Regions from separate parts of the Homo sapiens genome. Here all the other regions are linked to region 3. Evidence: fine-mapped expression QTL. A gene starts in region 3. Each other region holds a variant in brackets. All regions are shown on one strand. Distances are between the middles of the regions.

Region 1 (8,263 bases), 68 kb after region 3:
AGTGTTGGGTCCAGTGAGTGCCAAGGTCATCTCTCTGGGCTCTCGAGGAGGCAGCAGATGCATGCTATCTATAACAAGCCACAGCAGTGGGTGGTGCCCTGGGACTTTAAGGGACAGAGGCCCTGGCCCAGGTGGCTGGGAAGTTTCCCAGAGGAAAGGAGAAGAGCTGGGGCTAGCAGATGGTGGGAAGGCATCGCTTATCTCTGGGCAGCTTGAGGAGTCTCCTGGTCTCCGAGGGTGGATGCAGCAGAGCCCAGGGCTTGGGAAAGCCACCAGGGAAGTATTGGTGGCTGAGACTCCTCCGCAGCGACCTCATCTCCCTCCTCTTGCTGGTGGACAGGATTAGTAGCGAAGGCGGGCAGTGGAGAGAAGGGCTCCCGTGACTGCCTCCATTTTATTTATTGGTTTGATTATTTTTGCGTCCTGGGGAGAGAGTGGACCCCGTTTTTTGCATTAGCCCATATTGGGAAGCAATGGGGATGGGCTAGAAAGCTGGTGCCTCAAGAGTGGTTATTGATGTCCTAATTACAAGAGGATGCTAATTTAATTTGAACCTAATTACAGTGCACTACCCTGGGTGGCATGTGTTTTAATAATTAACGTCCTTCAGATGCGTAGGAGTGTAATAATATTTACACTAGGTTGGCCAGCAGCCTGTGGAGGCGGACTGGGGGCCCATACACCACCTTCTCCCTGGACAGCTTGGCTGTGAGCAGGTGGGGAAGAAGGCACATGGGTCCTGGCTGGCGAGTATCTTGTCATCCTTCCCATGTAACATGCTTGGGCCTCATTTCCAGCCACTTCCTTGACCCAGCAGGCAGCTTTGCTCTGTGGGGCACCAGGCTGGAACTCTGGAATACATCAAGACTGGCAGGATCAGGTCTCTGGGCTCCAGCCCCAAACCCACCTCCCCAACCCCAGTCTACCACACAGGGATGTTTCTGGCCTCCTCAGCCTGCCTGGTCCTATTCCGGGAAGGGCTTGTTTAAGGGGGAGTTTAGGAGGGAGGAAGGAGAGCTGCTTGGTTTGTCTTCATTCCTGTAAGGGAGGTAACATTTATAAGGAAATAGACACATTCGAAAAGGTGCACAAATGAAAAGGGTACCGCTCAAATACAAAGTGAACATTACCCACATAAACAGCACACACACCAAAAAGCATCAGCAGCCCCTCATGCACCCCTCCATAGCCGCTCTCACCCCCAAAAGTAACCCCTCTTGACTTCTATCCCAGTAGATGATTTTGGCCTATTTTGTTTGTTATGTTTTTATGTTGATTTGTTTTTCTTGGTTTGCGTGGCTTTACATTTTACATAAGGGGACTCAAACCATATGTATTCTTATGTGCCTGATGTCTTCCACCCAGCACACCTGTGAGATTCATCTGCGTGGTTAGGTTCATTTTAGCTTGTGCATTTTGTGTGGTCCATTGTATGAATACACCACTCCTTGATTATTAGAAGTCAGACATTGAGCTGTCTGCTAGGGCTGTGTCAGGCCCTAAAGGAGAAATCTGCTCATCCTAATGATGCAACTGGGGGCAGAAGGTGACATGAGATGAGAAGGGGAAGCAAGATGACGGGGCAAGGCAGTTCCGTCCCCAACAATCCCAGAACAGTGTGCTTGTCTGTGTGACCCCTGTGCCCAGCCTTTCTGAGCCTCCACAGGTAGGGACAGGGCCTACCAGCAAGTCCAGAAGCCAAGCAGAACCAGGGGCTTCAGAAATGGGCCATGGGCACTTTGGTGTCGCCACCAGCTCTCACTAGGCACTAAGTGTGGCTGGCAGGCCAACTACATCAGAATCACCTGGGGTGCTCGTTAAAATACAGCTTCCAAAAATAGTGCCAGAACTATATTAGGAGTGGTGGGGGGGTAAGTGAGCTGAGTCCTCCTCATCTGTCATAGCAGGAAGACAATGGGTAATGTCTGAAGTTGATAAAACAAGAACTAGCTTATTATTTAGCAATAAGATAGTAACCATCAGATCAAAAACATGATTAAAAGTGGTTGCCTGTAGGTAGCACACTAGGGATGGGAAGCGCTGCTTTTTATTATAATCTCTACTATTGAATTTTCTAACCATTTGTGAGTGTTTTCAGTGGTCTTTTTAAATTCATTGTCATGTAAATATACATGTATCTAAGTGCCACTCCAGACCTACTACCCCAATCCCCGTGGGGTGGGGCCTGGGGATCCACTTTAACAAGTTTCCTAGGCGATTCTGATGAGTTCTCAAGTTCAAGAATTGGCTATCACTGTCCAAACTCATTTTATAGGATGAGAAGGGAGACAAAGTGACTTGCCCAAGGTCACCCAGTTTATTAATGGCAGGGCCAGGAATAGAAAACAGATCTCCCGGCCCCAGGCCTATGATTTTTCTCTCCGTCATGGCTTTCGCCTTGGAGGGTATCCATCCCAGCAGGCCTGGCCCTCGGGGGCCTGCAGGGTGAGCTGGGGTCCCAGTTCAGACAAAGGAGGCTAGGGTGTCGTTGCACAGGGCGGAGGAGTGACTCCTGTCACGGGCCCAGAGCCCTCAAGCAGGCAGATATTTCTAACCACTGCATGTTGACAGTGCCCTGGATTTCTGCAGATCCATTGCAGGAACCAGCACATGCAAAAATGGGGCTGCTCCTGTGGCTCTGCCAGCAGCAACATCTTTGAGGTTTCTTTCCCCAGGATGGGAATGAGTCTGCCCTGAGCCATCCATAGCCCCTGAACATTCAGGCATTTAGCATTTCCTGAGCTGCTCCAGGCACTGTTCTAAGGGCTGGGAGAAAAAGGGAGAGTTATCTTTGGCCTCGTGGGGCTCACAGTATACTGAGAACAGATGTTGGTGATAGAAAGACCTAATTGATGTAATTGATGTATGTACAAATGCTGTGGCCTTAGCTTGTGGAGTTGACAGTGGCCATGCCCCATCACCCAGCAATTTCCTCCTGGTTCTGTGGCCAGGGGCTATTTGCATGTGTTAAGAACAACCCACCGGCTGGCGCGGTGGCTCGCGCCTGTAATCCCAGCACTTTGGGAGGCCGAGGCGGGCGGATCATGAGGTCAGGAGATCAAGATCTTCCTGGCTAACACGGTGAAACCCCGTCTCTACTAAAAATACAAAAAAACTAGCCAGGCCTGGTGGCGGGCACCTGTAGTCCCAGCTACTCGGGAGGCTGAGGCAGGAGAATGGCGTGAACCCGGGAGGCGGAGCTTGCAGTGAGCCTAGATCGCGCCACTGCACTCCAGCCTGGGCAACAGAGTGAGACTCCGTCTCAAAAAAAAAGCAAAAAAACCACCAGGACCCATATGCAAGAATGGGCACTGCAGCTTTGTTCCTACAAACAGAAATGAGACACTACAGGCATGGCAAGGTATTCACACAATGGAATATTACTCAGCAATGAAAATGAACTGTAGCCACACAAAGCAAGGATAAATCTCAGAAATAATGTTGAATGAATAAAGCACATCTCAGAGAACTTCATATCATATAATACCATTATTCTAAAGCTCAAAACCAAAAATACGTTGCTTAGATATACATGTATCTAGGTGATCATTTAATTTATTGTCCAAATAGGGATGTTTTTGCGAGCAAAAAGGAACACAAATTCTGACATTTGGACTGCAAGTGTAAGTTGACACTATCTCCAGTAAACTGGGACATGTGGACACCCCACATATATGTATATAAAACATAAAAGCAAAGGGATGATAAACACAGAAATCTGGATGGTGGTCACCTCCAGGTGGGGCAGCGGACCCCAGGGGTGAGATAAGGAAGGATGCTGGGGAGACATAAGTGACTGGGAATGTTCTGTGTGTTGGTCTGGGAGGTGGGTCTATAGATGGCTATTACATTATTAAATTAATAAAGTGTAGGAACTCAAAGGAGAAAGCTCTTCCAGGGAGGTGAGGAAGGTTTTGAGGACAGGGTGACAACTTCAACAGTTTACCTGATAAACAATGGGTCTGGTTGAGGGAACTCACTGAGCAAAGCCCTCTCATGGCTGGTGGGGCTCTTCTCAGAAGGCTCTCTGCATTCCAAGTCTAGCGTGTGGCCACAAAACTAGGGACTTTGTTCTCACCAGCCCTGGGCACTGACCAGCTGAAGCCCCACCCTTTTGGGAAAAAGCAGCCATCCAGGACAGGGAGAGCTGACCAGGCCTGCACGAGACACTGACTTCAAGGTACCCTGCTCACTTCAGATTAAAGTGTAAGTTACGGGAAGTGCACAGATCTTAAGCATATGTGGATTTTTGCGAATATATATAGTGAAGCTACCATTTGGATCGACTGTAGAACATCAGCATCCCTGAAAGCAACAACTTTTACCCCTATCACCATAGTTTGGGCTGTTCTTGGTGCCAGGGTCTTTTAAAGGACATTTTTTCCCTGAAATAGTCCTGACGACATGATGGGACCTTACAATCTCTAGGTATCTTTGCCAGAGTGCCTGTGCCTGGGGCTTGAATTGACACAAGGTAGGATAGGGGCTTCAGAGCCCCTACCCCCCCAACCTCTTCACAGCTGCCTCAGAACCTTAGGCAAGGCCAGCAGGAGACAAGGGTCCCTCACCCTGCTGCTTGAGGGCCTTGGCTGTGTCTAGCCAGGCAATACAGACCTATTATCCCAGCTCAATCGAGTCATTCTAGGCCCTGGGCCCAGTCACTGCTATGGATCAGGTGATACTGATGCAATTCAGTGAGCAGGCAGCTTCAATCTATAGGAGTCATCTGGGCCTGGGAGATAGGCCAGCTCCCCCTCCACTTGGGCAGATCTCACTCTCCTGCAGCCACGTGAATGCCACAGGTCTAAGACAGATCCTGTGGTGTTAACATTTTGTGTTCTCAATTACGTAGAACAAAATGAGGCCAAAGCTACTTACGGTTATTCTAAATGATACTTCTGTTTGGCTTC[A/G]CAATGCGTTTACATGCTTGACTCACCTGTGGTCAGCAGTCTCAGCCTCAGAGATGTCACAGTAGAGGAAATGGTATTGATGGAGCCAAGTCCGCCCTCCAGCCCACTGCAGAAACAACCAAGCCTGAGTTGGCCACCTCCCTCCAGCCTGTCCTAACACATGCTCAGGACAGGACCTGACCAGTGGGTAAGGAGTTTGGGTTTCAAAGAAGCAGAACCATAGGCTGAGTTCAGAGACTGAATCAATAGATAGATAGATGTCAGACAGACTAATAATTATCAGGCCAAGTTGGTGCTGGTCAAGAACTTGGCCATGAGATTGATCTCAAGGAGTCAGTGGTGGAGGATATGGTTGGTTCTGAAGGCAGACGGGCTGAGCTTGAGTCCTAGCGTGCCGCACGCTAGCCGAGTGCCCCAAGTGGGCTAATTAACCTTTCTGAGGCGGTTCCCTCATCTGTAGACTGAAGAATAAAAGATAAAAATTCCTACATCGTAAGGTTAATAAAAGAATTCAGAGGCCAGGCGCGGTGGCTCAAGCCTGTAGTCCCAGCACTGGGAGACCAAGGCGGGAGGATCGCTTGAGCCTAGGCATTTAAGACCAGCCTGGGTAACATAGTGAGACCCCAGCTCTACTTTTTTTTTAATTAAAAAAATAAAAAAGGAATTCAGTGAGATTTGTAAAGCACTTTACACAGGGCCCAGCACAGATTCTGTGTTCAGTGTTTGCTGTTATCACCCAGGGAGGAGGGTGCAGGCATGGAATAACCTCTCTGCTCTTGAGAGCATTGTGGGGTTGAGGCCAGAAGGGAGTCAAGGTGTCAGGAGGTGGGGGGTGGGGAGGCTGAGATGACTGGGCTGAGTCTCTGGCTGTCCAGTTGTGGAGTGATGGGAAGCAGGAGTCATGCACACCCAGGGCAGGGGGTTCCATCCCTTCACCTTGCTGGCGTGGAACTAGTCCTGTAGCTAAGGTGTTCAGCGCATGTGCACTGAGTACCTGTCGTGCCAGGCACCATTTGGGTGCTGAAGTTACAGAAGCAAACAGCACAGAGCTCCTGGCTGCATGGACTAGGGAGAGGACATATGCCCATACTCACCTGGCATGGAGGACACCATGCCTAGCCAAAACTTACACATAGACACTTTGCCTCAGACCTGAAATCTGGATTTAGACAGCAGAAGGAAGTTAGTGGTAGGGGTTGGGGTGTGTGTGTGTGTTTGTGTGTGTGTGTGTGTGTGTGTGTGTGTGTAGATGCCTCTTGGAGGAGCCAGTTCTGATTCACAGACCTGAAAACCAGCAGCAGAAAATGACTCCTCCCTGCTGATGTGGGTGTAGTTCTGGAGAAAGTCCTGTGCTGGGGCTGAGTGGACCATGGGCAGGGAGTGGGGTGGAGCAGGGGCAGTGCTAGGGGGCAGGATGCTGCAGTGCACCCCACCCACCATGGGAAGCCCCGAGATGGAGTTTACTGGGGCCTGGATGCAGGGGGAGCAGCCAGTATCACAGCTGCACTCCTGCCTCGACTCCAGCACATAGGCCTCACTGGCTGTGAACAGGGAAACACTAGTCTCAGGTTCCCAGGGAGCAGAGCTATGCAGAGGGAGCCCTCCAGAGTCAGGCGAAGGGCATCATGCCAGGCAGGAAGTATTAGCACTGATGTGGGGGCACCTCCTAGGCCGTCCTCATGTCCACTGTGTGAGTGGCACACAGTGCATGACAGTTGGGGACATTCCCATTTGACAGGGTGACAAACCAGAAGAGGTGGGTGCCTGATTCCAAGTTACACAGGGTGTGAGGAGCTGCACAGAGGCCACCATGATGAGCCACTTACATGACCTTGACCCCTAGTGAGAAGGACCCGTGTGGGCAAAGACAGATCTGAAGCTGCACTTTACTCAACAGCTGGGGAGGGCCGTTTCCAGAGGGGGCTTCACAAGGTGCAGTCGCACAGGCACTCGGGTTTGCAGGGAGGAGGATGTCCTTGGGAACTAGCCTGGCGGCCTTGTCTCATCTGGCCTGATCTGTAGAGGGCAGCTCCCAGGGGGGAGACCCGAGGCAGAGATCACAAATAGTGCCATGTCTGATCAATTGATAGTGGCTCCCTGGGGTGCCCTGTAGTCAAGGATTCTAAGGTCATGCCAGAAAGTCAGCTGTAATCAATTATTAATGTCTACCAAGGGTGTGGGAAAGGGGGATGGTCATGTGTGTCCCATATATTTGCCATCCTGTGTCAGTGCTTTCATGGGAAGAGGGTTCAGGAATCTTACTACATCAAAGTAGGGGGCACTTCCACAGCATCCTTGACGCAAGTATCCACTTCTGCTTGCAGAGAGGGCTGGAAACTCCCTCTCAAGGAAGTGGCGCCCAAATCAGTTCTTACCTCGTTACTGCTATCGTGTTCCAATTGCAAATACTGTTTTGCAGTTCATAAGCAGAGTTAAACACCTACTCTCTGCTGGGCACAAGGGACCCACAGCTGAGCCAGTCAAGTCCCCTGATACTATCTGCAGATACTTGAACCTGGTAAACTTCAGTGAGACCACTTTTCTTGGGGAGAGGGAGAGGCCCCTAAAGGCAGGGACAAGAGAGTTCTCCAGAAGCAGGAAGAGTTAAGGCCCTGAACCTGGAGGTGGCTCCTTGGGCATTTCCTGAAGACCAAGCTTCCATTTTCCTCTGGTGCCTTCCAGGCCAGCAGGCCCTGGAGCAGCGCTTCTCAAACTTTAACTTGCTTGTGAATCATCTGGGGATCTTGTTAGAATGCACATTCTCCTTCAGTAAGTATGGGGCAGGGCCAAGAATCTGCATTTCTAACCGGCTCCCAGGAGGTGCTTTGGGCCAAAGGACCACCCTGAGGAGCTATCCCCTCCCCAGCCCTTTCAGGCCAGAGGCTACCAGCAGGAGGTAGTAGGTAGAGAAGCCCACCTGGTTCCCACAGAGGGCTCCTGGGAGGTCTGACCAAGGCCTGAGTTTGGAGGCAGGGAGCAAACAAGACTCATGCTACCTAAAGCCAGAAATATAAGGGAAAGAGCCAGACCCTGGCACAGCTCTGCAGGAGAAGCTGCCTGAGGAGAGGGGCTGGGGCTGAGGCTGGTGAAGAATCTCTGCTCTAGGAGCTCCAGGGCCAACATAGAGTGCAGGCAGAGCTAAGCTCTGGAGTGTAGGCTCTCTAGACTGTACACCTCCAAAATGATCATGATGTCAGCAGCAGCTCAAGATCTGTGTGCTCCCACAAGGGCTAAGCACTTTATGGGTAGTCTTATCAGGGAAGGACCCTTCCCCCGGTTTTACAGATATCCTCTGGAAGACAGGCCTAGAGTCCATGACTTGCAAGTATTCAATAAATGATTTATGAGTGAAT
Region 2 (8,000 bases), 120 kb before region 3:
TTTTTGTGGCTTAGAATCCTGAGAAGCCCAGAAACCTGTAGCTAATGGCCTTTGAGCCACAGGTAACTATGGTGTATCTGCTAATGTTCATTTTTAACAGGTGTAACTCATCCAGTGCGATGTTACTTGGCCTGTTTTCTGTGTAGCTTACCCAGCTGAGTTATTCTTTGCATATATATTGCTAATATTTTTATGTATGTGCATGGCATTCTCAACAATGCTTTCCTTAATATTTGTCTTTTGGTAAAGCTGTTATAGTAATAAAAGGGCAAATTTTTGGTGGTTCCTCAGCAGGAGAAAAAAGTTATAAGTGCTTTGGAAAATGCAATGAAAACCCGTCTACACAAAGGGCCAAATATGCCCATCCAAAAACTTATGTGGGGCCCATACTCCAGGGCCTTCCAGAAGCTGATTTCAACCTTAGGGATAGGCTCTCTCCTTGGGCCCACCTGAGTTCATTTCTAGTTCTGATTTGGCACCAACAGTGAGGTGAAGCAACTCTAAGGAGGTTTTGAGGTTCAGGCACACCAGTCTCAGGGTTGTCCTCTCCACACCCCTCAGTGTGGTATCCTAAAGATCTTTATTGCTGTCTCTGAATCTTATGCTGCCTCCTGCCTTGATGATTTCTGATGCTTTTTTTATTCCTTTATTTCCGTTGTCATTAGCAGTGGGTCTTGTGAAACTTGTCTTCATTTATTTATTTACTTTTGTTCCTACCCCACCAATTCCCCCTTAAACTCTAGCTCAGTTTCATACCAATTTTTATTATCTTTTCTGTCTCAGTATTGGAGGATTGGTTTGCTCTTAAGTTAAACATAAATGCCAATTAAATTTCTCTCAGTCACCACATAAATAAAAGAGTAAAGCTTGAGCAAGTGGGAGACTGAAAGTGAAAAAGCTGCTCGATTTAAATGGATGTCAGATATGACCTTGTCTGCCTGAATCACAAATTATTCACCTAAGAGTGCAGTTTTTTTGGTGCCCTCTTTAATAGAGGAGTTTTGTCTTTTCCCACCTTCTTCCCTTCTTTCCATCACAGTGTTAAGTCTGTGTGTATGTTGGGTGCCCTTGTTCAATTTAAGTGAGATGTATGGGTTTTCTGCTTCCTGAAGCATGCTGGCAATTTTGCTGTCTGTGGGACAGGTGTGAGGTCAGATGGGCAGACGGCTTACAGCCAGATGAAAAATAAACAGGGAAAAAGACAATGTAATGCACATATACGTAATGGTTTCACAGAGGTTTCTTAATTGTTTTTTAATCTTTAACTGTGTTACCTACTGCCCCAGATTGATCCCCCTCTTAGTTGCAGGCCATGATAAATGGAGGTTTTTGTTGAGCTGACAGTGTAGGCAATATCTGCCAAAATAATTTACAATGAACTGGTGTTTGTGCATAATATCTCTCACCACCCTCCTCTCCATCCCAGTACACATTGTTGGTGAGGAAAAAGACATGCTTAAGTGCACATTCTGTCTCCTAAACACTCTTAAGAAATGTGTTGTATGGAAGAGATTATATCATAATGGTGGAGCAAATAACCTGTAATTTTGTTCTAGTGTTAACTGCCTCCATTTTAGGGGTTGAGTTTCTACTCCTTTTCCATGATCTCTTCTCTTGCTGTTTAAAAAATGATTTCACAGAGTAAAGGTCAGAGTGCGTTAAAATGCTTTTGTATGAAGACCTAGCAAATACAAGACCTGCTTGGCTGATTGCTTATGGTTGGAAGTGACTCATCTAAGCACAGGAGTGTGAGGTTTATGGCTTAGAACGTAAGATACCAGCCTCTGTAGTGGCCAAATAAGCCGGCCTTTTTGTTTGTTATTACAGATGGGTTTTGATGTCAAGGTCAACTGAGTTTTGAGTTGTCCATAAGATGGACAGAACATCTGCATATAACACCAACTGAATGAACCCCCAGTTTGTCTAGGGCTTTGATAAAAAATTTGGCCCTCTAGACCGGGCGTGGTGGCTCACACCTATAATCCCAGCACTTTGGGAGGCCGAGGTGGGAGGATTGCTTAAGGTCAGGAATGCAAGACCAACTTGGTCTTGTAGTCAGTGTAGTGAGACCCCATCTCTACCAAAAAAAAAATAATAATAAATGTGTGTGTGTGTGTGTGTGTGTGTGTGTGTGTGTGTGTGTGCGTGCGTGTTGACCCATCTGCGTCTCTTACACCTATTTTTAGGGTAACCACTAAAGGAAGAAAATTACATACTCCCAAGCTGGTACCTTAGATCCTGAAGAAGTTACTGGTTTTTTGTTATTTCCAATTTTTCACAGAGTAGGAACTGGGCTATTAGAAGTACCAGCCACTGCTGCCATTTCTATCATAGTCTAGTTTCCTTTCAAGCCAGGGTGTTCCAGAGTGTGTAGAACCAGCTGAGAATTTGACCGACTTGGTACTAGGTCTTACTTGATTTGAAGGATGGTTCTGTGGTGACTGACTTCATACATACATGTTTTCATTATTAGTTGGTTTTGTTTTTCATTGATCCTGTCTGAGCTCCCTCCCTCACCAGCATAGAAAAAATTGGAGTATGTGTGTCAGTGTTCTTTATCTCAGGTTTCTCAGCTGTTCTTTATCTTAGGTTTATTATTGTTTTTGCTGTAGCCTGCTCCGTAATAAATACAATCTCCTGCAGATACAGAGTGTAAAACAGGCAATAAAATGGGGCTGGTACATGGCTTACTGTTGTTCTGGTAGATCAGACAAATCAATTATGGTTCTGAGATTAGAGAGAGCTCCCCACTCCTCAAGTTGCAGCCAGCCCTGCGAGTGCTGATTTTACCATTTACCTTTACCTCCACTTCTCCATCTTCCTCTTATATGGGAGTAGGACTCAATGAGTCATAGTGTATATCTGAGTTTTCTTCTCTGTCCTTTTCCTTTTGTGTCTGTCCTCTGTGCATGAGGAGTTACGATGTTTGTTTGATGGTACAAGAAGATAGCATCCTCTTCAGTCTTATTTCTGAAAGTCCCAGAATAGGGATTGTCTTCTTTTGAATATATTCTGCCATTTCATATTATGTAGTCCTGACAGCTCCTCTGTTAATTTCACTATTACAGTATTTACTCTCTTAATCCATGGGTCTTTTTAATCTGTTAACTGCTGCTGTGCTCCTTTGGACGTTTAATCACATCATGGCTTGGTTTCATGCTCATGTCACATAGCACTTTTTTATAACCACCTTTCTCCGTGACTGATTTTGTTAGAAATACGTAGTATTTCTGATTTTTTTTTTTTTTTTAAGGATACGGAGTCTCACTTTATCACCAAGGCTGGACTGAAAGTACAGTGGCACAGTCATAGCTCACTGTGGCCTTTCACTCCTGGGCTCAAGTGATCCTCCTGACTCAGCCTCCTGAGTAACTGGGTCTACAGGTGCACACCATCACACCCACAGGATCTTGCTATGTTGTCCAGGCCAATCTGAAACCCCTGGCCTCAAGTGATCCTCCCACTTTGGCCTCCCAAAGTATTGCTATTATAGGCATGAGCCACCACCCTAGCCTAAAAATTAAGCCATGGTTTGGAATGATCCAGTGACTAGCTTTGGGGAAGGTGCAGGGCACAGGGGAAGAAGGTCAGACATTTGGGGCCCTGTTATTCATGAAACGAAGTCTTACAGAGTTGACCAGTAGGATTCTGACTTGCTAATGTGAAGGATTGAAGTGTTCCTTTAAAACAGTTAGATAAGATTAAATCAATAGATAAGAAATAGATTGGTAGACAGGGTTGGATTTTCTCCAGCATCTGCTCCTGACCTCTGCCTTCAGTTTCTGGTTTTCATTGCCCTCTTAAACTTTAATAGCACTGTCATCCTTTCTTTGAGGTTTCTGTAGGTGTTACCTTTCCTTAGCTCTTTATTAATATTTAGGCCTTGATGGAAGCATAAGAAAAAAATTATTACTCTTTTTGGCTAAAGAGAGTTTTAAAAAGCCCAGGCACGGTGGCTCACGCCTGTAATCCCAGCACTTTGGGAGGCTGAGGTGGGCGGAT[C/G]TCCTGAGGTCAGGAGTTCAAGACCAGCCTGGCCAACATGGCAAAACCCCATCTCTACTAAAAAATACCAAAAAAATTAGCCAGGCGTGGTCGCGGGCACCTGTAATCCCAGCTACTTGGGAGGCTGAGGCAGGGAGAATTGCTTGAACCTGGGAGGCAGAGGTTGCAGTGAGCTAAGATAGCATCACTGCATTCCAGCCTGGGTGACAGAGTGAGACTCCATCTCAAAAAAAAAGAGAGAATTAAAAAAAGAAAAAAGTGGTTTGCCTGGTAAGTCTGAAGAAGGTAAAAGGAGCAAAATCACCCAGGGGCTTTATGAGTTAGGTCTGTGTTAAATTGCAGTTTTTCTTATATGTTTTCTGGCCCACCTAGTTTAGATTTATTTTTCTTACCCTCATATGATTCTAATGTTCCTTTCAGCTTTCTGTTTTTTCTAGTCTCTGGTATTTGATGGCACAAATGCTCTCTGAGTGTATTTGTTTTTTGTTGTTTTAAATAGCCCTTCCCTTTTTTACCCCACTTGGCTAAAATCATGGCCCTACATCATGTTCTCACGTCTCTCTTGCCAACTGCAGTCTAAGTTATTGTACAGATGGCACAACATCAAGGCCTATGGTTCTGCCGGGTGGGTTTCTGTGACCTGGAGGGGTTGCCTAGCACTGGAGCTTCATTCACACAGTAGCTGCTGGCTCCACTGCTGGGCTCTGCATTTGGTATCCGAGAAAATCCCAAAGGAACTCTGGAAGAGCCAGCTCACTGTCTGCAGAACTTGCTCTCCAGAGCAGGCAGTGTGTCCTCTCTAAATATGGTTGGCCCCTTGCCTGGAAGCCATGGTTGGTGGGAGTGTTGGGTTATCCTGGTGGCTTCCTTGCCTCCCTGTTGTGTTTCGTAGCTCAAGTTGTCACTAATTTAGGAAAAGCTATTGCTCTATTTCTTTCTTCTTCTTTCTTCAAGCAAAGTTTATTGAACTCTAGTTGGACTACAATGTACAGGTGACTGGCTTGGATCCTCACTGCACAGAAACATGCCATCACCTCTGTGGCACACAACCTCTGATGCCAAAGTGGCAGCCACCTCGTAAGTTTCTCCCAGACTTTGGAAAAAACTTCAAACTCTTTCTCTTTCTTTTCTTTTCTCTTATATTTTCAATTTAATTTTTTATTTCAAAAAAATAGAGATGGGGTCTCACTTTGTTGTCCAGGCTTGGTCTCAAACTCCTGGGCTCAAGTGATCCTCCCACCTCAGCCTTCCAAAGTGCTGGGATTGCAGGAGTGAGCTACCATGGCTGGCCTCTTTTCTCTCTCTCTTTCTCTCTTTTGTTGAGATGGAGTCTCCCTCTGTTGCCCAGGCTGGAGTGCAGTGGCGCCATCTCAGCTCACTGCAACCTCTGCCTCCCAGGTTCAAGCAATTCTCCTGCCTCAGCCTCCTGAGTAGCTGGGATTACAGCTAGTTTTTGTATTTTTAGTAGAGACGGGGTTTCACCATGTTGGTCAGGCTGGTCTTGAACTCCTGACCTCATGATCTGCCCACCTTGGCCTCCCAAAGTGCTAGGATTACAGGCATGAGCCACTGCATCCGGCCCTCTTTTTTCTTTTCACCTCTTCTAAAGCATGTCTCTGCTAAGAGTTGGATGTTACTAAGAAGACCTTGATCTTGATTCTGCCAGAGAGTTGCTTCAGCCAGTTGCCCTCACCCTTATGATGGAAGACATAGCTTTATTGTGTTGGAGTTTTTTTGTACATGGTTTGTTTCTCTCTCTCTTTCTTTTATTTCTTTTTTAAGATGAGATCTTACTATGTTGCTCAGGCTGGACTCGAACTCCTGGGCTCAAGAGATCCTCCTGCCTCAACCTCCCAAGTAACTGGGACTTACAGGCATAAGCCACAACACCTGGCTGTCTATAGTTTCTTTGTTCATATGACAAAGTGGTTCTGTGCAACCACTTTCTGTTTTTTGAAACTCCCCTATTCAAATTTGCCAGAACTACAGGGCCATCCCTCTCTTAAATAAATTTGAAAGCATTTTTGATTTACATGGGAATTTTTTTCAAAATTTCATTGCAGCAGGTACCACAGTTAATGATGGTTGTGTTTCATTACCTCCTTTTGTAGATCTTAGTCCACTTTTTGACTGAGTTGTGTTGTTTTTGGAGGGCACCCAATTTAGGACATGGTTTCTCACTTCTCTTATTTAGCTTCATTTAGTTGGGCTGTTTTGCATCTTTGTAAATAGAGATGTAGAAATGTAGTCCTGAAGAGATACAATTGATTCCCACCCTGTAAGAGAAATGATTTCAAACTTTACATTTTTACTCCCTAGTTTGACTCTGTTTTTGCGTCTGTAGCAAATTCACCTCAGTATTCCTAGTAACTTATCTATATCTGTTCTTTAGTCTCTTTGAGCCTTTCTGGTTCCCTCATTAATTAGTGGGGTTAAAATGAAATTTTCTACATGAGTTTATTTTATATTTGAATAAGAGTCAAGACTTTACCTTATTGAAAATTATCTTTTAACAGGGGAAACAATTGTAGAAGCAAGAGAAATACAAAACCACATATATAGTGGGCAATAAAGGATTATAGAATTATATGCTTTGAAAATCTTAGTTTTGTTGCCTCCTCTGTACCTGGAAACATGAACAATAATTTGGTTGTGAAAGTTCTAAAAAAAAGAAAAATTTAGAAAGTGAATATGTCTCTTTCATCTGCATCATGTCTGGTTCCAAGTCTGTACCTTACTTGGTTTAACTTTTTATTCAGAACAGTCTTGTCTTGGAAAATTCAGGCACCAGAGCAGATAACCTTGAGGTAGGGAGCTAGGATTGGACTTTGAAAGCAGGGCACAGCTTCTTGTCCTTTGATATGAGTGTCCTAGCTCTGCAATTCAACACCTCAGAAAATGTTTGCTCAGGTGAGCTGCCCAGAGGTGGAGCACTGTTAAGAGACAGGGCTTCTTTATTTGTTCGTTCTTATATAACAAAAACATCTTCCTCCCAGTATAATCAGTAGCATGTCACTGTCGTGGATTCTATTATCAGGAAACTTTCTGCCATAAATTTTTCTAGTTTCCTTCTGCTTCCTTGTTTAACTGTGCCTTCACAAACAGGAGTGCATGCAAATGCACTCAGCATTTGCAACAGGGTCCTAGCTTTTAGTGAAGTGTACTGAGCTATAATGATTTTTGCCTTTCTTCTTTGTTCAAAGACATGAGAAAGGAAATTGAGGGAGTTAGGAACATTTTTTCCAAATAAAGTAGCATATTTTTCCAAAGAGAGTTCCTCTGGCCATAGATTTGGCTATAGCTGGTCCATGCTCTTCGGTTGTTCTCTTTCCCATTCTCTGGGTGTATGTAGATAACACTCTATGATTCTATTTCATGGGTCAAAATAGGTTAAATGAGCCCATTACAGGGATGATTGTAAGTATATTTTGGCAGCAGTTGACAAAATTTCAGATTCCCAGGTTGAGGTGTGTGATTGGATTGTCTGATCTGTCCCATGGCTGCTGAGTGATGTGATAAAATTTGAAATATTTCTGCATAGCCCCAGATTCACTCTCCACTTTACCATCATAACACTACTTAGCCTTGGATTGAACTCATTGTGTCCTGTGGCTATTGCTTATATAAACATTTCAAAGTAAGTAATTTCACTAACATAGACATTCTGCTTACTTGTATTTTAAGTCTTTATTTAGCATGCTTACAACATATTCCCTACAGACTATGTCGTACAGAATTTTGGACACTCCTTGCAGTGTTAACATCCAGATATTTTGAAATTAGAGCTCAGGGTTGCTTTGAAATGCCCTGGTCGTTTTCTGCCTCAGTTGTTCAGCAAATGGTGTTCTCAGGAAGAAATTATAGAATTCCTAATACAGTATCGAATTTGGAAGGGGCCTGAAAATGTAAGCTATTACCCAGATTTCTAAATTGGAGGAAGACCTGTGTTATATTGATTTGTATTACTGCAACATCCCCAGATACTTCACCCGCAGTAG
Region 3 (8,000 bases):
CTCCTGAGGGGGCCTGGGAGAGGGAAGCTTCCCATCAGTGTGCTCCATTCAACAGTACCCCATGTGGAACTCCATGTGTGCATGCGTGTCACTTGTAACTGTGGATCTCACAGCTTTTTTGTGAACCATCCTGGTTGGGAAAGGCTTCATTACTTTACGTGAGCCTGTACCCTTTTCGTCTCTCCCTTTTCTTTGCTACTCATGTTCTGCCCCCACCCCATCACCACAACCAGTTGACATCCGCTGTAATAATCCCTAATGAATCAGCATTTAGAAGAGTCACCAAATCACAAGCATGAGAAAAGCTTCCACTCCCAAGCTCCCCAATTCAGGCTTCTCCTCCCTCTCCACCTTAAAACAAACAAAATCTTTTTTAAAAATCATAAAATGCCATCATTGTCTACAATCATGTGTCAGAGTCCAGGAACAACAGGTGGACATGGCACAATGCTAATTTATGGCCTCCTGTGAATACATTCTCTCTGCTTTACCCTCCCTTCCCACCCCCCTGCTGCCGCACCCCTTCAGGGGCCTCCTCCTCCTGGGAAACCCTGAATAGACACATGCCTTGCAGAGTGGGTTAAGCCCAACTGCAGGAATCTGGTGCAATGTGAAAGCATTAGACTGAGAGCTACGCCAGCTCCCGTCCTTCTCTGCTCCTTTCTAAGCAATTCTGTCAGGCAAGGCACATGTGTGTCCAGTGCACAGACCCCCAAGACTTGTGCACATGGACAAAGACTCAGCCCCTTTAAGGGTTCGTTTGAATTTTGGTGGTTTTCCTGCTTAAAATACATGTACAGGTCTATCTTCCCCTTAGCCTCTGAAGAAAAATATTATTGCCACTATCATTTTGGCACAGTACAAATTCATGGTGCTTTTTTTTTGTATTTTTTTTTAATAAGATAATTCTGCAAAGACAGCTCTCGGCTTAAGAAAGATGTCTGTAGAAATGGATAGTCCTGTGTCCTATGAAGCATCTTCTAAAAAATGACAGATTCAGTCTATCCCTCTTGCCCCCTCAGCAGCCCACACCCTACCTCTTTAAGGATGTTTGTTGTTTTAGTTTATTTTATCTCAGCAATTTCAACCTTATACCAGAAATCCCTTCTGGCAGCATAGCAAGTTAACTTGTGGCTTGTACCCCACAACGTTCCCAAGATTCCCCCCCACCCCCTTTAAATAGAACTTACAAGTTAGAAAATATTTTTGTTTTGACTTTTTGTCTTTAAATTTTAATATAATCTGTTTTTTTTAACCAGCCCATAGACTTAATATATAAGCATATACAAGAAAAAGTCTCTCCCCACTCTGTACAAAAGTTGCTGTCTTTGTGTGCATTCTATTGCATTTTATAAGTTTTTTGGGGGAGGGGAGTCATATTTGAGTTTCCTGTACCTTGTCCTTGGTATGGGTCTGAATTATATAAGGTTCAGAGATAGTGGTGACTGTGGGGTGCAGAGAGTTCCCCAGGCTGTTTTCTGTCCAGTGGGCCCCATGTGCTGGTTTGTAGGTGTTGTAGTTAATATGGTCATGAATTGTGGGCAGCACTACTGCCCCCTCACCTGATACACCGGACGGAGCTGCTGTTGCTGCTGCGGATGTTGCTGCTGGGATGTCTTCGTCCACCTGGATTATCTCAACAGTCCGGGCGGCTGTGACTGTACTCCGCTGCTGGTGCCGCTTACGAAGTTTATAGAAGACAATCAACATGGCGGCAGCTAGCAGAGTCACTGCCACAAAGCAGCCAATGATGATCTTGGTGGTCTTCATGACTTCATCCAGGCTGGTCTGCATCTTGTCAGTGGTGTCTGTCGCGGGTACTGCCACCTGCTTGGGCACACGGGTAGTCTGAATGAGCACCGTGGTAGAGGTGGTATATGCCGGCTGGTAACCAGTGGACGTGGTAGGAACAGGCTTGTACTTTCGCGTTGTGTCCTCAGGCGAGATCTCCGTGGTCTCCACTGTTACTGTGGTGAAGAAGCTGTAGTTGGAGGTGTTAAGCTCAGCCGTGCTCACATTGAGGTAGGCCGAGGCGTTGGAGTTGCCTGCAACATTGGTCACCATGCATGTGTACACCCCAGTGTCTGAAAGCAGCACGTGGGAAAAGTTCAAGGTGCCGTCGTTGAGGACAGAGATCCTTGGGTGGCGGGAGGCGTGGCTGAGCACTGTCCCATTGGGCAGCAACCACTTCACGGAGGACATAGGGGGAGTCCGACACTTAAGTTCTGCCATCCGACCCTCAGAAATGTTGAGGTCTCGAGGTGCGTCCATGATGAAGGGGGCAGAGCACTGGAAGGAGGCCTGGTCCACCTCCACGAGGTAGCGGCCTCGCATGTGCATGGGAGCATGACAGCGGCCACAGCAGGTGGAATTGGTGGGTATATACTCTCGAAGCCACCAGGCTAGCCACAGAATGTCACAATCACAGTTCCAAGGGTTGTGGTGTAGATGCAACTCCACCAGGTACCTCAGCGGGGTAAAGAGGTCATGGGGCAAAGAAGAGAGGTTATTGTGGGCCAAGTTGAGTTCCACAAGTGAAGCCAGCCCGTCAAAAGCATTCCGCTCAATCAGGCTGACCTGTGAGTTCATGACCCAGAGCTTCTTGAGGGAGCTCAGGCCATGGAAGGAGCCAGGCCTGATCTCAGGGAAGTGGTTCCCTGACATCTCCAGCTCCTCCAGCCCCACCAGGGGGGTGAGATTGGGCATGTCTTTAATGTTGCACATGCCCAAGTTCAGATACTTGAGGTTGAACAGCCCCTCAAAAGCTCCCTCAGAGATATACTCCAGCTTCTTGAGCTCCCCCAAGTCCAGGCGCATGAGGGAGGGCACCCGGTTGAAGGCGTAAGAGGGGATGCTTTCGATGGGGTTGTTGCGAAGCCAGAGCTCCCGCAGCTTGGACAGGTATTCAAAGGCCCCGCTAGGGATGACTGTCAGCCAGTTGTCGAACAGCTCCAGGGTGTTGAGGCTGGCCAGGCCGTTGAAGGCCCCCACCTCAATCTGCCGGATGGAGTTCCTGCCCAACTGCAGGACCTCCAGGTGGTGGAGGTGGCGGAAGGTGTCGGCCTGGATCATCTGGATGTTGTTCTCCATGAGGTTGAGGTACCGGGTGTTCGAGGGAATACCCTGCGGGACCTCGGAGAGGCCCCGGCGCGTGCACACCACCTTGCTGAACTGGTTACTGCACGAGCAGACGGAGGGGCAGTTCTGGGGCCCGGCTGAGGCGGCAGCAGCGATGGCTGCACACAGAATCCACACTTGCGCCGTGAGGTAGACGAACGGGAGCAGGATGGCATTCCAGGTGTGGTGGTGCACAGTTACCTGCCACAAGAGCTTCATGGTGTGGCACGTTCATAATTCACCATCGCCTGGGATTTTGGCTCGGAAAGGAGAACCAGCCCTACCCCGGCTTAAGTGAGCTAGGAGCTCCTCTTTCCATCTGGAGAAGGAGGTGGGGAGGGGGCGATTAGAGAGACGGAGCGGATCGGCCGAAAAAAATCCTGCCAAACTCGAGCGGCCCCTGGTCTCCCAACCCACCCTCAAGGCAAGCCCTCCGAAAGCTACGACTCTCCCACACTGCAACCGTCCCCACCCAGTTCGCCGTCACCTACCTCGGAAGGAAGGCAGGAAAGCACTGGCGTGGTGTCCTTAAGCTTTCTCCACGGGAGCTGGGCACCTCGTTCCCATTCCGACTTCTTAGTTTTAATTAACAAAAGGGGGAAGTGGTGGGGGCGGGGAGGGCAGAGGGGAGGGGAGGGGAGGGGAGGGAAGGGGTGGGGGAGACAAAATGGCCTCTAGTAAATCCGGAGCCGGAGCCGGCGAAGCCGCGGAGTTGAGGCGCGCCTGGGAGAGCCAAGGCCCGGCGGGCTATGCAGGTGCATGCCCCCCCCTCCGCCCAAGGAGCGGCGCCACCAGCGCTTCCCGGCTTTGTCCTTGGACCCTGGCACCGGCTCGCTCCAGCCGCGGGGGAAGGCGCTTCATCGCCAAAGTGCGCTCCGGCGGCCCCGGCCCGCTCTGCGGGCCGCCGCCGGAGGGAGTGCGGGGGCGCCCCGAAGCCGCCCAGGCCGCACTCGCTGGATGCTGCGCTCCCTCTCCCGGCGTCGGCCGCTCCGGGCCGGCGGCAGCTGATTGCGGTCGTGAGCTCGCGGAGCGGCGAGAGTTAAGAGGAGGTGTTCGCGGCGCCTTCGCCCTCCCCAGACACACACCCCCTTTCTCCTCGCCTCTTCTCGGAGGGTGGAAGAGACAAAAACGGGGGGTCAGTTCTCCAGTCCGCCGGCTGCCGGCACGCGGGGCGGCGCTCCGTCCGGCCCCCGAGGACCAGCGGCGTGGCGGCTGCGCTCGGACCCGGTCCGCCGGCCGGAGGAGCGCGCGGCGCCCGCGGTCGCGCCCGCACCGCAGGCCCCTTCAGAGAGTCCGGGGGCGGGCGCGGGTCCGGCGGCGGCGGCGGCCGCAGCCCCCGGCGGCGCGCAACCGCCCGTCGCCGCCCGCCGCTGCCCGGCCCCCGGCGCGCCGCCGGCTCCGGCTTTGTGCGGAGGGAGCGAGTTCGCGGCTTCGGCTCCCGGCGCCCTCAGTGGCCGCGCCGCCAGCGGACTGCTGCAGCGGCGTGAGCAGCGGGGGTCGCGGCTGCGGGAAACGCTCCGGAGCCCAGGAACATAGTCCCCGCTGGCTAGCGGCGGCAGCAGCAGCAGCGGGGCCCCTGCGCGCGGCGCCCACCGTCTCCTCCTCGCGCCGGGCTCGCGGTGTTGCAGGCGGCAGCCACGCAGACTGCTCTCTCATCCTTTTGTCCTTCAGTCAGAACGTGAATGTACTGCTGACGCATACTGTTCTGGGAGAAGATTAGCGTGATGCAGTGCTCTTATGTATTAGCGCCGCTCCCCCTCCGTCGCCTGCCTCGCGGGGTTAACGCCGGCGCCTTCCAGCGCCGCGCCGGCCGGCGCCGCGCAGCCCCGCGCCTCCGGCCGCCCGTCTTCCTCTTTCCTCCTTCCTTCCTCCTCTCTTCCTCTCTCCCCCTCCCCCCTCCCCCCTCCCCGGGCCGCTTCCTCCCCGCCCCCTCTAGACGAGCGGAGCGGGGCCAGGGCGAGCGGGCGAGCGAGCCGGAGTGAGCGTCAAGTGAGGGGCCGCGCGCAAGTCGCAGGCGTTCGCAGCTATTTTGGGCCGGTCGGAGGGAGCAGTTGGGTGGCCGCTGATAGGCTGGAGCGGCGCGGGGCTGCGGCGGGAGAGCCCGCGCCGGCCCCCGCCCTCCGGCCCGCACCCGGGGCCCCCTGGCTCTGAAGAGCGGGGCTCAGGGGCCCGGCGGCCCGCGGCGGGGCTGCTGCATTTGGCCTGCCTCTCGCCCGGCCCGCGTCATCCTCACCCCCGCTGACTGCTGACGGGGCGCGGACTCGCGTTCGGAGTTCGGAACTGCGTGGTGGGGACTCGGGGGACGGCGGCCGGGGCCACGAGGCTCCCAGGACCGAGAGCCCGGGCTTCGCTGCTGCACTGCCGCCAGCCCCTCCTTCGCTTTGCCTCACCCCTCCTGTGCTCTCACTGGGGCTTTAAATGAGGGTTTCCTTAATGAGGGTTGCGGGGGCGGGAAACAGTGGCAGGAATGACCAAGTGTGATGAGCTGGGGAATGGCAACCTGGGACAGCACAGAGGCCGGCAGGAAGGATTGAGGTGAACTCCCGGAGCCCACGACACAGCCCGTTCATTCATGGAGCTGCAGCCGCGGCTTCTCAGTCTTCGCTGGCCGGAGTCGCCCCTTGCTCCCCGCTGCCCCCAGAGAACTGGGGGAAGGGAGGCGGGCGGCTGAGCCCCCTGCCCTGTGAGCTCGCCAGCCCTTCCTTGGCTAGGACTCTGAGAAGAACTGCGTAGCAGCCAGGGGTAGCGATTGGGAGTGGGGGTGGAATTCTTGCTCCTATTTCTGGTAGGAGACCCTAAGGCATTTGACAGACTAGTGTAGGAGAAGGGGACTAGGTCAGCTTTTTCCCACCCCCCTGAAAAAAGACTGCCCCTTTCTCTGCCGACTGTGGGTGAGGCAATCTAGCTGAGCCCTGGGAAGCCGGTCCAGTAGAATATAGCATGGTTTAATATCCCTTCCCTTCAAGAGCTGCCTCCAGACTCCTCAACCCACCCCTCTCCCCGTGTGATTTCTGGCAGGCTCGCTTGATAAACCCTCATCACCTGCGCGTGGGCTGTTGCTTAAGAACGAGGAGGTCCCAGATTTCTCAGCTCTCTGGTTTCTACCACACCTATTTCTGAGTATTGTCTTTTGCCCAGTAACCTGAACCTCTTTAAATACGCCATGGAATACTTGAAGTCCTGGAAACGGTTCCTTTGTAGGCAAGTTGGAGTCCCCATTCTTTGCCAAGACCTTTCTGTTATCATTTGCTGTCAAATAATAACCTTGTTAGTTTCTGTTTATTGAACCCTTACTCTGTATTCCACTGCAACCCTATTATTCATTTTATATGAGTCAAACGTTGCCTAGGGTCACTAGTAAGTGATAGTGGATTTGAGCCTCAGCACGTCTCAGATGTCAAGAAACTTGGGTGTGGAAGTGATTCCCCAAAGTATTCTCCTAGTGGGATGAGAACTCAGGTTTCATTCATCCACTTCAATAGTCATTTACTGGGATGCTTATCTACTATGTACTATCCACCATACCAAGAACTTATATCTGTTCTTGTTTAATCTTCATTTACCCAGTGAAAGTAATTGCCACACTTGTCTCCATTTCACAGATGAAGGCACTTAGCTTAGGCAGGCAAATAACTTGCCCAAGGTCACACACTAGAAAGTAACAGAGCCAGCCTTTCCATCCAGCCTTCAAACCCTGAGTCCGATGTTTTCATCACTAACAGGAATGCCCGCTGTGTCTACTCTTCATAGAGTAAATGGTGGAGGCAAGTGGAGGGGGGAGGAGAGAGAGACTGTAGGAAAGTTCAGTGAAGGATGTGTCAGAGAAGTAAGATGAAGGGTAGGAGACGGGCTGAGAAAATGAACTCTCATCAAGAAAAAGAATGAGGGAGACATGGAGGTAAGTCAAACCCTGATACTGGGGTTTAGTTCCATCTGGGCACTCAGACTTTCTGGTGAGAGGTTCTGCTCCTTTATAGCTGGCACCGACCTAGTAGAGTCATCTATTGCCTGAGGAGACCCCTGGCCAGGGTCTGGATGGCAGCGATTAAGTATGACTATCCTTCCCTCCTCAGGCAACAGGGTCTCTGCCTGGGCTGGTCCTCTGCTACTGTAGGCAAACTCAAACCCTGTCTGTTCAGCTCCAGGCTCCACAAATGAAAGCTGCTGCCCCGCACTATAAAGGTAGATGAAAGTGGGGGCCGAGTTGGGTCAGACCAGTACTTAGTAATGAGGTTGTCTCTCAGTAAGTATTTGTGACTGCCATCCATGAAGGTGACTATGCCCAAGCTCTGTCGAGCTCTACATCAGGCTGCTTTGCCCCCTGTAAGCCAGCTGGGCCAGGAAAGCACCACTGAACCTACTAACTGGACTACAGAGGAGGCTGTGGGGCCGTCGTTGCACACAGCCCTTCTGAGCTGAAAGTGGGATTGCAGCCTCTCATTTTGGTAACCCAAGTACCATCTAGCTATGGCATCTTGCTCCTCACAGCCCGTGGCTCTGACTGCTTCTTGGATTTGGAATGGTGCCACCAAAGAATAAGAAGGAAAGAAGGCTACTTACACCCTAAGAGGAAGAGACAGTGGATTCAGATTGTTTTCACTTGCAGTTTCACACAGGGAGACTGCTGTGATAACGCCAGAGAGAGCTAAAAAAGCCAGCAGTGATTGGGGAAGGCCTGTGTCAGCAGCCTGGTATTATAGAATGAGCCCTGTGCTAAGATTGGGATACCTGAGTTCTAGTCCCCTTTAGACATGTGACAAATCTTAAAATAGCTCTAAACATCAGTTTTTCCATTTATAAAATCAAGGAAATGGATTAGAAAGTTTCTTACCGCTCTCTTAGTCCATGATTCCTGTCCCATCTCAGATATGTAGCTCTGTGAA
Region 4 (8,000 bases), 28 kb before region 3:
TCAAGGATGTAATTCTAGCCCAGGGAAGAAAATCCTTTTCAGCAGACGCTTCCCTTCCCTTCCCCTAGGGAATGTGTCCCTACTATAGTAAACTCTTCCTTAAGAGAGTTTTATGTTTTCTCTGTCAGATCAATTTGTTTTTCTTAATGTTGTTCCTATCAAAAAAAAAAAAAAGGAAGAAATACAGTCCTCAGACCTGACAGTTTCATTTTTCCCCCCAAGTAGAAGCAATAGAAACCTTAGCAGTTCCAAGACTCCTGGCACTCACTTTTCCTCTCCATCTTTAGGTCTAACCCAGCTCAGCCCAGAGTAAAGACATAAAAGCCTCACATGTGATTTCCTCTTGCATTTTTTCTGCTAGAAGGGTCCACAGTACTTACTTTATGCCTCATCTCAATTGAAGCTGGATGATGAGGATAGTGGGCAGTGATTGCAATTGGGGAATGCATGTACTGGATCACATAAGGTCATGAAAGTCCTTGAAACAGAGCCTTGCCAAGCAGAACCCTTGCCACTCATGGTATTCGATACAGTCTACCCATCTGACATGAAATGATATTCTTAATGAGCCATTCCTATGGAAGATAGCTATTGCCAGGCACATTCAGTCTCCTGGTCTCCCTCTCATAGCTATGTAGGGCCTATGACCTAGAATAAATGGAAAAATGTTATCAGGAGGAAGAGACTGCTGGACTCCCCTGAGAGGTAGGGTTTGTGCTAGGAGAGCTGGGTGCCATTTATTTCATTTTGATATATCAGGTGCTCCTAGTAACAATTCCTAGTTTCTCTTACCTCTGTAATCATCCTGAATAGTCACTGCTTCTTGAGCTTTGGTGAGTGTTCTCTAAAAAAAAAAAAAAAAAAAAAGGTGGAAGCTAATATTTTTAATAACAAAGGGCTGAAGAAAAGCAGCTCAGAATTTTTATTTTTCAGGTGAAATACCTATTGTGAAATCTGTTAACTTCCTTCTGGAAGCCTAATTTGGTAGTATCTACAGACAAGCAGATAATTTCTTGACAAACTAAAGATGACCTCACACAGACCTGCCCACTACTTGTTTTCAGAAGAACTTCTGAACCCAGAGCATTGGCCAACACCCATACAGACTTGAGTGTGAGCTTGCTTTGCTTTTGCTTCTTTTTTTTTTTTTTTTTGAGACAGGGTCTCACTCTGTCGCCCAGGCTGGAATGCAGTGGCACAGTCATGGCTCACTGTAGCCTCAACCTCCCAGGCTCAGGTGACCCTCCCACCTCAGCCTCTCAAGTAGGTAGGACTACAGGCCCGTGTCCCCATGCCCAGCTAATGTTTTGTTATTTTCTGTAGAGACAGGCTTTCACCATGTTGCCCAGGCTGGTCTCAAACTCTGGGCTCAAGAGATCTGCCTGCCTCAGCCTCCCACAGTGCTGGGATTACGGGCATGAGCCATTGCACCTGGCAAGTGAACTTTAATGTGGTATGTTTGGAGTGTCTTCAGGCTTCAGGCCTCCCTGTTCCGTTTGTCCTAAACATTGCAAGCCATGCCCATTGTCTGAATATCCCCTATGGAATTACATAATTCAACTCATATCTTTTTAGAACACAGCTCTTAATGTATAATAGCAAGGCTGCCTGAGCCACCAGCAGAGCACAAGCAGACTGTAGATGGCATTTTTTCTCCAGGTAATACTAACGTTGTGGTGTTTCACATGTGACTCGCCCAAGGACAGAGGGGCAACTGTTCTGGTGGATGAGCTGACCTTTACCCTGCCCTGTTCTTGCCATTAGCATGCCCACTCCCTGTGTCTGTTGCCAAGGACTTGAAGAGAACCTCCGTGTTCCAAACCTGGCTTTATTGATGAACTTTCCACTTGCTACTCCACCCGTGACGGTTTCTGGTCAGCTGCACTTAAATGGATTTTGAAAATGAAAGTGACCAATGGTCTGTTATGAAATGCTGCGGTGCATGAAATAAGATTATGAGCAAGCTTGAGAATTAAGAACAGAGATACCCTAACCTGGTCAAAACAACATGTTTCACATAGTGAGAAAGGAATAGCTCATTCTTAGTCTCTTCTTTAGGACATTTAAGGGCATCTTTTCCTTCTTAATGAAACTCTGTTAGCATGTGAAAAGTCAAACCTAGGTTCTCATTCCACTTTCACCATTTGCTGTCTGACCATGCACACATCCCTTAGCCTCTCTAAACCGAGGGCAATCTCAGTGCCTATTAGAATTTAATATGAACGCTATCCCTAGCATTGTGCAATGCAGCCATCCTGCTAAACCTAATTGCCTCACCTATGTAAGGAGGGTACCTTCTCACTAGGGTTACTGTGAAAATTAAGTGTATGTGTAAACTGTTCCTCACAACCCAAGATATTAAACACTCAGTGAATGGTAGCTTACAGCATCATTTTTATTATTAATAGAAATTCTCTCAGCCGGGCACAGTGGCTCACGCCTGTAATCCCAGCACTTTGGGAGGCCAAGGTGGGCCGATTACCTGAGATCGGGAGTTCAAGACCAACCTGACCAACATGGAGAAACCCCGTCTCTACTAAAAATACAAAATCAGCTGGGCATGGTGGCACATGCCTGTAATCCCAACTATTTGGGAGGCTGAGGCAGGAGAATCACTTGAACCCAGGAGGCGGAGGTTGCGGTGAGCCAAGATCGCACCACTGCACTCCAGTCTTGGCAACAAGAGCGAAACTCCATCTCAAAAACAAAAAAAAATAAAAGAAATTCTCTCAGGGCTTAACTGAAATTTAGGACTTGAACTTCAGTATGTACAAAACCAGAGTAGAGTTCTAGGCTGGATCTAGGTATGTGTGTTGTGAGCAGCATTCAGATTAGAATCAACAAAGAACAACCCTCCCAGTGCTCTTCACTCCCCCAGCCTGTCTAAGCCAGTGATGGCACATATGCATATGCTACCCCTATTCGGGTTGTCCACCCATGGCAGACATTGCCAGTCAGTCACCGCGCTGCTTTGGCTGAGGGCTCAGATCCTTCTCAAAACAGGGATCCTCGCTACTACTACCAGTTGAGAGGATTTGGCACTTAACGGAAACCTATTTTCCATCCTTGGTCTAAGTTTGCAAAGGATTATTTATTTAAGTACCCTCAGGACATCAGCCAGTCTTTTATTCTGTGAAGTAAAATAACATAAGGTCTCTTTGTCTCTGATTCCTCATGGTCCCACACATTAGGCAGTATTACATTCAGTGGAAAACCAAAGGTCTGGAGATAATGCCAGCAAGTCCTAACCTATGCAAGATGCCTTTTCTAGACTTGGCTATGGACTGATAAGGTGATCACCAAGGGAGGGGTGACACCAGGACTCCACACATACCTCATGGATGTCTAAGGAATAATGGTTTGACCATCTTTGCAGTGTTCTCCACTTGCCATAGGGGTATTTGGAGACTAATCTGCCAACAGTGAGGGCTCTCTGCTTTTTCTGTTGATGCAGGTCCTCTGTGACATTGTCACAGCAACTTGAAAATGAGGGATACGGGTATGAACTAACTAGATCCTGGCTGGTACAGGCTTCCTTATCCTCTGACAGAATAGCAGTGCTCCTTTGTGTCTCCATACTTTCCTACCATGACCACAACAATCCAGGATTGCCATAGATTTGTCCTTGACCTGCATTAAGTTGAAGAGTTGGAAGATAGATAGCACAGTGCCAGCAGAAGCACTAAAGAAAGAACTAGGTGGTAACACAGGCTGGGCACAGTGGCTCACACCTGTAATTCCAACACTTTGGAGGCCGAGGCAGGGGGATCACATGAGGCCAGGATTTCAAGACCAGCCTGGCCAACATGGCGAAACCTTGTCTCTAATGAAAATACAAAAGTTAGCCTGGTGTGATGGCACATCCCTGTAGTCCCAGCTACTCAGGAGGCTGAGGCCAAGAATTGGTGGCAGAGGTTGCAGTGAGCCGAAATCGTGCCACTGCACTCCAGCCTGGGCAACAGAGCCAAGACTCTCCAAAAAAAAGAAGAAAAAAATGAAAATGAAAAAGAAAAATCTAGGTGTTAAACAAGACTGAAAAGGATAGGAAAAGGCCTCCAAGAAGAAGCGTTTGGGTCACTGTAGCAAGAACAGGTACCTCTTGAACCGAGAATGAAAGAAGGAACTGGAAACTGCTTCACTGTGCTGTTTTCCTTTTCAGCTTAACATATGCCTTCCTCTTCTCCCCTTTCCCTTCTCTTGATGCAGTCGAATTCTTTTTAATGGTTACCAGAAAAGGATTTGGCATTGGGTGTACAGCTAGAGGTGGAAGATCATGCAAATAAGACCAACAGGTCCCTCCATTCCCCACCAGCAGCCTGCATGTGCCATTTCACTTCACACATCTCTATAATGCTTGCGGTGCTGGGGTGCCGTTACCTCTCCAGTTAAATAAATCTCAAACCACCGACCCAGGGTTTTCATAGCAGTGCTGCAGCCATATATGAGGAAATGCAACAAACAGTCCATTAGCACTGATTGGATATGGATTTTTGGCCTGGCCACCTGCCACTTGGTAATTTTAGAATAGGGTCACTTTTGGAATTGAAGATGCCTTGTGGGAGGGGACTGGTGTTTGCTAAATAGCTGTATCTTACCATCATGCCCTTTCACAGCCAAGCTCCCTACCTCTGGAGTGAGGGGCTGGTCTCGTGGCCTGCCTGGCAGAGAGGGCTAGAGCTCCTTCTTCATCAGCTTCC[A/G]GGGCTGCAGACGTGGCCATTTCCAAACACCCAGGGTGCACTTAACCACTTCCTCCTCCTAATCTCAGCATTTCCACTCTAACACATCAGCAGCTTTGTAACTTACTTTCTTTTTTTTTTTTTTTTGCCCTATGTTTTGGCCCTTGATGTATTTGTGGGAGGAAGATGGGTAGACTGGCTAACTGTGATATCAACTGATTTCTGAATGATACAGTTATACCCTGAGTCAGTTTCTGGAGATTAAGCAAGGGTGCCAGGAGCGTTGTGAAGGGCTCTCATTGTTTTTACATGTCAGTGACTGCCTGCCTTGGTTTTGCCAGCTGCAAAATGGAAGAACTAAGCCCTCTTTTGCCTAGAGAATGCTAAAAGGTGAATACTCAGGTGTGGTGGGGAGGTTTCTAAGGACACCCAGACCCCAGATGATGCACTAAGAGTGCTGTGTGACCTGAAGAGGGACCTCTGGTCAGAACATTTTTTTCTGTCACCAGCAACTGAATAATTATGCCCAGTTGGTAGAATAGGAGAACTGTTGGCCTGGGACCCTGAGATCTGACCATGATGTTCCCCATTGGACTAAACTTTGGCCAATATTTCCTTTTCTCTATGCCATGAAATCTTTTGCATTGCCTTTTTCTGGACATGAGTAGAGTACTGACTTTGGCTTCTGATAAGCAGCATATCCTAAAGAGAATCTGTCCCAGAGGACTTAGGGGTTCCTTCAGTCTTTGCCGCTCTGGTTGCACTATTCCTGAGCTAAAGATGAAAACAGACATCAGATGTTCATCTTTGTGTTATGGGTTGTTATCCCCAGCCATCATAACCGTGTGTCTTATTTCCTGGTTGTCTGCATAAGGCCGTATTTACATAGAGTTTGCAATCTTGCCTGTGTGGTCAGTATCCGTTTCACCCTAGGTTTACAGCCAGACCTCTAACATTTGGACCCAGGCCTCTGATATTCATGCCATGTCTTTTGCCCAGAGTGTTTAAAAGGACAGGCCTGTGCCCTAGCTGCCGTAATCTTTGTTATTTTCAAGTACGAAGCAAGATAGCTTTGCCTTATTTGCTGTCTGTCTATATTTTCTGGGCATGTCAGCCAGGGAGTGAGGTTAGTAAGGTATAGCTAGAGATTGCCCTTGAAGCTTTTGATTCTTGCTTTCCTGTCCAGAATTATAGTCAGTTGTTGAGATAGCCTATCCCAACACCACTAACGTGTGACAACTTCAAAAATTCATGAGGCCTTGGGATTCACAGCACCTCTCAATAATCTAGCCTTGTATCAAGCGAAGTAGCCCTGTTGGAGCATTGCCAGCATGTGAGGTGCAGAGGGGCCCTCCGTAGCCAGCCCTTCAGCCCTTCCAGGTGTGAGAAAGGGCTCTTCATGCCACACTCACATGTGCACCCACGCATGCCTAACACCCAGTGACTGGAAGACTGCCTCCAGGGAAATACATGCAGGCTTACACCGCCCAGACAGTCTTTCATCTGTCCTTCCTCTTTCATTCTTTCACCCGCCCCCTTGTGTTTCTGTAATTTGTACAGTATCGTTGAAAGGTGTTGAAGAGATCAATAGCAATTCACCTTTTCCCTTATTGATTCAAGTGATGGCAAGAAAAAATGGCAGGCAGTACCAATTCATTTGTCATGAGCTATCCATTTCCTACCAAGCCACCAGTGACCTCTCCCAATGCCTGTTAGGTTGCTGATTTACAGTTGGGATTACTTCTTTTTCCAACCTGCTTTGATAGGAATGAGAGAACCACTGTGTTTGACTCCTGTAATCAAAGCTGGGTGAAGAAGGAGACTGCAGGTACTGAACAGGAAAACTGCTGTGGAGCCTGGTCTCCAACTCCGAGGCTTGCTTTATTTGAGGAGCTCCCCACCTGTGCTGGGCTCTCTAGCAGAGGCAATACGGCATCAGCTGATGGAGCTGCAGTCTCCCCCAGCACTTCTCAAGTCCCCACCCCCAGCCCCCGACCTTTTTCTAAAGGACACAGCCTTCCTTTGTTATCTTTTTCCACAGAATGTAAAATGAGTGTGCTGAGTGAAAAGTCCATGACCCCTGTGAACTGGCTCTGCTTTTGCCAAAGGTGCAAAGGTTTGTCATTCCCTTCATGAGCCTTCAAGTAGTAACTTCAGCTGACCCTGGGGGAATGTGAGGTGCCCAGGGTCTGGCCTTAGCAGGGCTGTGGGTGAAGGAAGTGTTCTTGTTCTTAGAGGGTTCTGTATCCACCAGGAATGTAGAGTGGAGACAGTTCTTCTCAGCTTCTTTTTCTGCCCTAGAGAAACAAGCATGGGAAGGGTGCGTGCGTGCGTGCGTGTGTGTGTGTGTTCAGCCTCACTGGGAACAGTATCTTGACTTTCACTTGGAAAAGGTAATGGTGGATCCTTGTGTGTGTGTGCGTGCATGTGTGTTTTGACCAGCCTCACTGGGAACAGTCTCTTGACTCTCATTTGGGGAAAGGTAATGGGGTATCCTCCCCCCACCTCCCAAATAGGACAGTTAGCTGCCACACACTTACATGCACATTTTAAAAACTGTGCATTGCGAATGGCAAATATGTATTAGTTCACTCACCTGGTGGGAGGACCAGGGTTCTTTGAATCCCAGGACTCTTAAGAGGGAAGTTGGCACTGACTACAAAGCCAAAGCTTGGCTAACCCAGCTGCTGCTTCTCCTTTATGTACCATATTTTGAAGGTTGTTGGTTCTTACACAGAAGCAACTGTTGTCCCCCACACCCAGTGTGGTCACCAGGCCCTCTCAACTCCCATCAGTGCTGAAGTTTGCTGCTGTGGCATAAAGTGAGCCAATTCCCAGAAACTCCTGCCTATGTAGACTTTTGGCAGAGAGGCTGCATTTGGAGGGCTACCTGGAAGAGAACCCTGCTCAGCCACTTACCTGAGTGGGCAGTTAATGGTGAGCAGTGGGAGTGGCAGTTCCCAGGGCTGGTTGTTGCCAGCATGGAGGTCGCAGTCTTTGTGTCAGCCCGAGCACACAGCCAGCCTTCTCCGGAGGAGCACTGCCATCTCAGTCTTGTTTCCTGAGCGCCGAGTGGGTTGAGGTCACTATTTTAGATGCCCCTCTCCCAGTAGCGAGATTTTGTTAGAAACCCAGTGTTGCTGTGTCAGGTAGCTCTGCAGTATGCGGATGCCAGGCCTGGAGAAGGCAGCCAGCTCTCTGTGAAGCTGGTTAATTACATGTGAAGCTGCCAGCAGGACAATTGTTTTTTTTCCCATGGATCATTAATAAACCATTCTGGCCTGGCAATTCCATCATCTTCCTCAGCTTTGTCAGACGGATCTT

What was found. PIP is the estimated chance that this variant, and not a neighbour inherited with it, causes the effect.
Region 1: its variant is the best candidate, but not a certain one, in a credible set for the expression of LRRC4 in whole blood (TOPMed, PIP 0.75).
Region 2: its variant is the best candidate, but not a certain one, in a credible set for the expression of LRRC4 in whole blood (TOPMed, PIP 0.71).
Region 4: its variant is the best candidate, but not a certain one, in a credible set for the expression of LRRC4 in whole blood (TOPMed, PIP 0.57).

Annotation. Positions count from the first base shown.
Region 1 is chr7:128,094,704-128,102,966 of GRCh38, forward strand. No RefSeq gene overlaps it. Among named protein-coding and RNA genes, the nearest start is that of MIR593, 17 kb to the left of the region's middle. The variant A/G (reference allele first, on the strand shown) is at 4,911.
Region 2 is chr7:127,906,217-127,914,216 of GRCh38, forward strand. All of the region lies in intron 14 of SND1 (staphylococcal nuclease and tudor domain containing 1), which reads left to right. Among named protein-coding and RNA genes, the nearest start is that of SND1-IT1, 87 kb to the right of the region's middle. The variant C/G (reference allele first, on the strand shown) is at 4,003.
Region 3 is chr7:128,027,305-128,035,304 of GRCh38, forward strand. LRRC4 (leucine rich repeat containing 4) reads right to left here and starts at 4,133. Exons shown (of 2, transcript NM_022143.5): 1 at 3,609-4,133; 2 at 1-3,436. The coding sequence starts at 3,336. The coding sequence ends at 1,375. All of the region lies in intron 16 of SND1 (staphylococcal nuclease and tudor domain containing 1), which reads left to right. RefSeq lists silencers at 4,577-4,696, 5,347-5,416.
Region 4 is chr7:127,999,232-128,007,231 of GRCh38, forward strand. The region is part of intron 16 of SND1 (staphylococcal nuclease and tudor domain containing 1); the gene reads left to right. SND1-IT1 (SND1 intronic transcript 1) reads left to right here. Exons shown (of 1, transcript NR_027330.1): 1 at 1-846. Among named protein-coding and RNA genes, the nearest start is that of SND1-IT1, 5.7 kb to the left of the region's middle. RefSeq lists an enhancer at 982-1,141. The variant A/G (reference allele first, on the strand shown) is at 4,698.